2 linked regions of the Homo sapiens genome follow. The protein of the gene in region 2 interacts with the protein of the main gene of each other region in a pairwise test. Each region holds a gene or a part of one and is shown on either strand. Other genes may lie near its edges.

Evidence for each region. The genes of interacting proteins can lie anywhere in the genome.
Region 1: the proteins of PYDC2 (region 2) and NLRP1 interact in a two-hybrid assay, tested with the Homo sapiens proteins (one study listed by IntAct).

The regions. Positions count from the first base shown.
Region 1 is NC_000017.11:5,513,034-5,516,063, forward strand, and holds the end of NLRP1 (NACHT, LRR and PYD domains-containing protein 1), read right to left. Parts: intron 2,485-3,030; coding exon 2,440-2,484; intron 2,041-2,439; coding exon 1,721-2,040; 3' UTR 1,085-1,720; downstream 1-1,084.
Region 2 is NC_000003.12:191,459,254-191,462,484, forward strand, and holds PYDC2 (pyrin domain-containing protein 2), read left to right. Parts: upstream 1-1,909; coding exon 1,910-2,203; downstream 2,204-3,231. UniProt on the Homo sapiens protein: May play a role in innate immunity by disrupting the interaction between PYCARD and NLRP3, thereby regulating the NLRP3 inflammasome. May also inhibit NF-kappa-B signaling distally by affecting the nuclear accumulation of RELA.

The DNA of each region.
Region 1 (3,030 bases), on a different chromosome or scaffold from region 2:
TGTGATACAGGCGTGTCAGATTGCCACCACTTTCCTGCTTTATAACTAAAGATGCTTTTGAGTCTAATACCTGGATAGACTGTGTCCAGCATTAACCTTTTTTTCTTCTGTTCTCATAAAAATCTCTCTTATTAAAAATCTGTTTGGCTTTGTATTTCAGACAACAGAAGACTAGTTTTCCAGCCTATTCACTTAGATTCCAAATGGCATCTGATCTCTTATTTTTTTCTTTCTTATTTTTTTAAAGAGACAAAGTCTATGTTGCCCGGGCTAGTCTCAAAAGCCTGAGCTCAAGTGATCCTCCTGCCTTGGCCTCCCAAAGTGTTAAGATTACATGCATGAGCCACCATGCTTGGCTTTGATCTCTTCTTTAAAACTGGGCTTAAGTATTTTATGAATTATCACTAGGTGCTATTTGATTTTAAAAATATTTGTTATATTCATCAGGTGTTCGGACGGTTCAAGTTTATGTCTTCCAGGCTACAACAGTTTCAGAGAAAAATAATTAGTCCAGTGTTCCAGCCTGTGCCACTGCAGAAAAGATGGAGTCCCTATAAGTCATTCGATCAGGTACGAAGACATTTCTATGCCTCCAGAGCAGGTAGGGATGATGGCCCCTGTTCAGCATGAAGCAGTGACAGAAGATAGATCTCTGTCCTTCTACAACCTCTTAAGATTAAGGACGAGTATGTAATGTCTGAGGTGGGGATAAGATAGGAGGTTGGCAGGACTGGTTTCACAAAGACTCCTCGTATAAAACAGGATGTGGTAAAGAAGCCAAAACCCATCAAACCAAGATGGTGATGAAAGGGACCTCCGGTTGTCCTCGCTGCTCATTATATGCTAATTTTAATACATTAGCATACTAAAAGACATTCCCACCAGCGCCATGACAGTTTACGAACGCCATGGCAGCATCTGGAAGTTTCCCTAAGTAGTCTGAAAGGGGGAAGAACCTTCAGTTCCAGGAATTCCCACCCCTTTCTCTGGAAAACTCATGAATAATCCACTCCTTGTTTAGCACACGATCAAGAAATAACCACAAAAATAGCCAACCAGCAGCCAGTCGGGACTGCTGTGCCTATGGAGTAGGTAACTTCTTATTCCTTTATTTTCATTTTTTCTTTTTTGTATTTTTTTAATTCTTAAATTTAAGTAAAAAATTTTTAATTTATAGGGGTTTTCTGGTAAAAACTGGAAAGCCTGCTAGACAAATTCTAAAAGAGCTGTGATACTCCTTTATTTTCTGAATAAACTTCCTTCCACTTTACTCTGTTGGCTTGCTCTTGTAGATCTTCCTGTACAAAGCCAAGAATCCACGTGGCCTCCCACGCTGAACCCCAATTTTGGGGCTCACCCTGTGACACAGCCAGAGGCAAATGGTTCCATGTCCCTCCTATTCCTCTTTGCGCCTGGATGGGATCCGGAGGGCTCTAGGCTTGGCTGCTGTGGCCACCAGATGAGGCTCTATGAGGTCTGCAGGGGTCTTGCCAGCTCCAGATGGACATTCCCTGAGATGCTGTTAGGCCACCTGGACTGGGGCCCCCTGTGGCATCCCTGGCATGGACACATAATGCCCAGCAAAGGCATCATCAAAGTTCCATTACTTTAGTGCTGGAAGGCAAACCAGATGGCAACTTGTTTGCAGAGAAAGAAACTGAGACCCAAAGAAGGGTCAGCCAAAGCCAGGACTCAAGGGTCAAGGGCTGGTGTTGATACTTCAGCTGCTGAGTGGCAGGAGTCCCTTTTTGCTGCCCTTCTCCCAGAGTTCCATAATGAGGTGAGGATGGGTCTCCTTCAGGGCTTGGTAGAGTCCATCTTTGCACTTCCGGTCCCAGGACTGGCTCAAGCTGAACAGCTTCCGCATCTGGCTGGGCCTCGTGTTCTCAGCCAGCACCCTCTCGTACTGCTCCTGGCTCAGCACCTGTCCATGCAGTTTGTCCAAGACAACCTCCACCGATGTCACTCGGGCTATCAGCTGCTCTCGATACTGGTCCACAAAGTGCAGCAACTGCGGGGCATCCAGAGGTGAAGGTACGGCTGGCAACGAACAAAGAAGGGCTCCAACCACAGCCTCCACCTCCAATCCCCACCTTCAGTGCTTTCCTCTCTCATCTCTGCATCCCTCGCTTCCTTCTGCCTCCAGAAATGCACCTGTGTCCTCCCTCATGGCAGCATCTAGCTTGGCATTCTGCCAGAGTGGGGATCGGGAGTGGGGTTCCTGCTGGGCACATTGGAGGCTGTCAGATAAGGAATTCTAGGGTCTCTGTGGATAGGACAAGGGGGTATGGGGAGCGACCATGCACCGCTCTCCAGGGCCTGACTCTTTGTGAGGTTTGCAGTGATGAGTCCCTTCCTTTCTCTCTTCCCTTCCCCCAGAACCAGACAGTACCCCAGAACTGCCACCGCCTCCTGTGGTCTCTGAGAGCTGTTACTGACCTATGCGGGCTGGAGGGATCAGAGTAGTTGCAGGCATGAGATCTCCTGGAGGAAAACAGAGATGAAGATGCATCTGAAACAGTGCTAAGTTATTAACACACATGGTACACCTCCAAGCTCCCACTCACTTCTGAGATTCTTTGATTTAGAAAAAAGCCACAGACAAATTCTGGTAGAATCTGGAGTAAGAGCTGGAAGGGTCCTTAGAGGTTATTTAGGTGAATCCCTTCCTTATGCATATGGGGAAACTGAGGCTCAGAAGCTGTGATCATACAGTAATAGAAGACATCCAAATGAGCGATAGCAATTTCTCCTATAACATCCCAGACTTGGTTTTAATCCCGTGTTGGCCTGAATTGTATCCCTGGTGAACTAACCAAACCCCTTGCTAGATAGCTTGAACTATTTAGCACCTCCTTGTCTGAGCAGAAATCTACTTCCTTGTTCTTGTTTAGCCTTCTAGACTGGCACCAACCAAAGGTGTACGTTCTGGATTTGGATGTCAGAATCTAGAATCAAGATCAAGCAATCTTAGGACATGGGAATAACAAATTAATTTTAACAGAAAAAACAGACAACGACAAAAATGAA
Region 2 (3,231 bases):
CCAAGAATCTATTGAGGACATTAAGTGAGTATTTTGTTCTTACAAATAATGCTATGCAAGCAGACACACCTGTAAGACAAATACTAGAGGTGGAAAAGCCAGGTCAAAGAGCAAATGCTCTTGTCGTTTATATTTTTCAGGACTGCCTTCTCTAGGGTTCATATAAATTTATACTCAATCTGAAACATGCACTCCAAAAAATACAAGCAAATTGAATACAGTGACCTATAAAAAGAATTATACACAATGACCAAGTGGGATTTATCCCAGGACGGCAAGGTTGGTTTGAACATATGAAAATCAATTAATATAATTCATCATATCAGTAGAATAAAAACAAAAATTACATGATTATCTCAATAAACACAGAAAAAGCACTGGACAAAACCCAACTTCCTTTCATGATAAAAATACTCCCAACTGGAAAATAGAAGGGAGCTTCCTCAATCTGATAAAAGTTATCTATGAAAACTCATAGCCAAAATTATATTTAATGGAAAAATGATTTTTGTCCTAAAATCAGGACCATCTCAATGCTATCTGCTCTTAGCATGACCATACAACATTACATTAGTGGTGCTAGCCCTAGCAACTAGACAAGATAAGAAAGGCAACTGGATTGGAATGGAAGTGAAAGTGTCTGTATTAGCAGATAACATAATCTTGTATATAGGAAATCCTAAAAAATTCACTCGAAACCTGTTAGAACTATTAAATGAGTTCATCCAGGTTTCAGGATACAAGATCATACATAAAAATCAGTTTTTCTTCTACACACTTGTAATGAACAGTCCAAAACTGAAATTAAAACAATTCCTTTTAGAATCATATCAAAAAGAATAAAATACCTAGAAATAAATTTTAACAAAGAAGTAAAACTTATGCTCTGAAAATTACAAGACATTATTGAGAGAAATTAAAGAGCTAAATAAGTGGAAAGCATCTCGTGTTTATAGATTGGAAGGCTTAATTTACATTGTTAAGATGGCACTACTCCCCAAACTGATCTACAGATTCAATACAATCCCTGTCAGAACCTCAGCTTACTTTATGTAGAAATGGGCAAACTAGTTAGAAAATTCAAGTAGTATCGCATAGACCCAGTACAGCCAAGATGATATTGAAAAATAAGAGCAAACAAAGACAATTCACCTTTCCTTATTTCATGACTTAGTAATTTATTTAGTATTTCCTCATTTCATGACTTAGCATCTTAATGGTAATTAAGATAATGTGGTACTGGCATAAGGATAGGCACATTGCTCAATAAAACAGAACTGAGAGTCCAAAAATAAGCCCGTACATCTGTGGTCAACTGACTTTCAACAAGGGTTTCAAGACCGTACAATGGGGAAAGAATAGACTTTTCAACAAATGATGCTTAGGCAAGTAGATTTCTACATGCAGAAGAATAAAGTTGGACCTCTATTTCATGCCACATACAAAAATTAACTCAAAATATATCAAATACCCAAATGTAAGAGTTAAAGCTGTAATATTCTTATAGTAAATGATAGGGGTACATCTTTATGACCTGAGACTTGGCAAAAGATTCTTAGACATGACATCAAAAGCATAAAAAATAAGAAAAAAATAGATAAATTTGATTTCATCAAAATGAAAAACATTTGTACCTTAAAGGACACCATCATTAAACTGATAAGACAACTCACAGAATGGGAGCAAAAATTTGCGTATCGCGTATCTAATGAAGGACCTGTCCCTAGACTATATAAAGAACTCTTACAACTCAGCAATAAAAAGACAATAACGCAATTTTATAATGAGCAAAAATCTGAACTGATATTTCTTCTAAAAAGATATAAAAATATATACTTATTAGTATATGAAAAAATGTGAGAACCAGAGCATAGGGCCAGGCGTTGGGAGAGCTCCCACATAGGACAAGATGGCATCTTCTGCAGAGCTGGACTTCAACCTGCAGGCTCTTCTGGAGCAGCTCAGCCAGGATGAGTTGAGCAAGTTCAAGTCTCTGATCAGAACAATCTCCCTGGGAAAGGAGCTACAGACCGTCCCCCAGACAGAGGTAGACAAGGCTAATGGGAAGCAACTGGTAGAAATCTTCACCAGCCACTCCTGCAGCTACTGGGCAGGGATGGCAGCCATCCAGGTCTTTGAAAAGATGAATCAAACGCATCTGTCTGGGAGAGCTGATGAACACTGTGTGATGCCCCCACCTTAACCCCTCAGGGATAGTGAGTTGATGGCTGAGCTAGATGTTGCTTTAGCCTTGGTTCTGCCTCCATTTTACATGCACATGTTGCTTAACCTTGTTATATATGAAATATCTATATCACCAGTATTTTGAGATAAATAAAGGTGAAATAATTCACAAACATTAAAAGAAAAGATGCCTGACAACTTTAGTATTCAGGGAAATGCAAATCAAAACTATGATGAGATACCACTTCATATCCACTAGGCTGGCTAGAATAGAAAGATAATAACAAGTATTGGCACAGATGTGGAGAAACTAGAATCCTCATATACTGCTTATGGAAATGTGAAATTGTGCAGCCACTTTGGAAAACAGGATGGCAATTTCTCAAATGATAAACAGAGTTCTCATATGATCTAATATTATATTTATAAGTACATGATCAAGAGAAATAAAAACATAAACACAAATGTTTATAGTGTCATTGTATACAATAGCCAAAAGGTGGAAACAACCTAATGTCTGTGAATGGACAAATGAATAAACAAATTGTGGCATATGCAGCTAATGAAATATTATTCGACAAAAATGAAGTATTGATCACATGCTTAAACATGAATGAACATTGAAAACACTATGCTAAATGAAAGAAGCCTGTCATAAAAGACAAAATATTATATGGTCACATCACATATGATATGATTCCATTCATAGGAAAGTTCAGAATGGCCAAATTTATAGAGTCAGAAGTAGATAACAGGTTGCTTAGGACTGGGAAGGAGAGTTGGTGAGTAGAGGGGAATAGGGAGTAATAGCTAAAACATTTAAGATTGCTTTTCGAGGTGATGAGAATATTCTGAAATCAACTATGGTGATGATGGTACATATCTGTGAATAAGCTAAAAACATTTAATTGTATTCTTTAAATGAGTTGTGTGATATGTGAATTATATCTCAATAAATGTTAAAAATGCAAAAAATGAGACAATGAATGTTTACCATCTTTTCATATGTTTAAAGACCGTTAATATTTCCATTCAATGAACTATTTA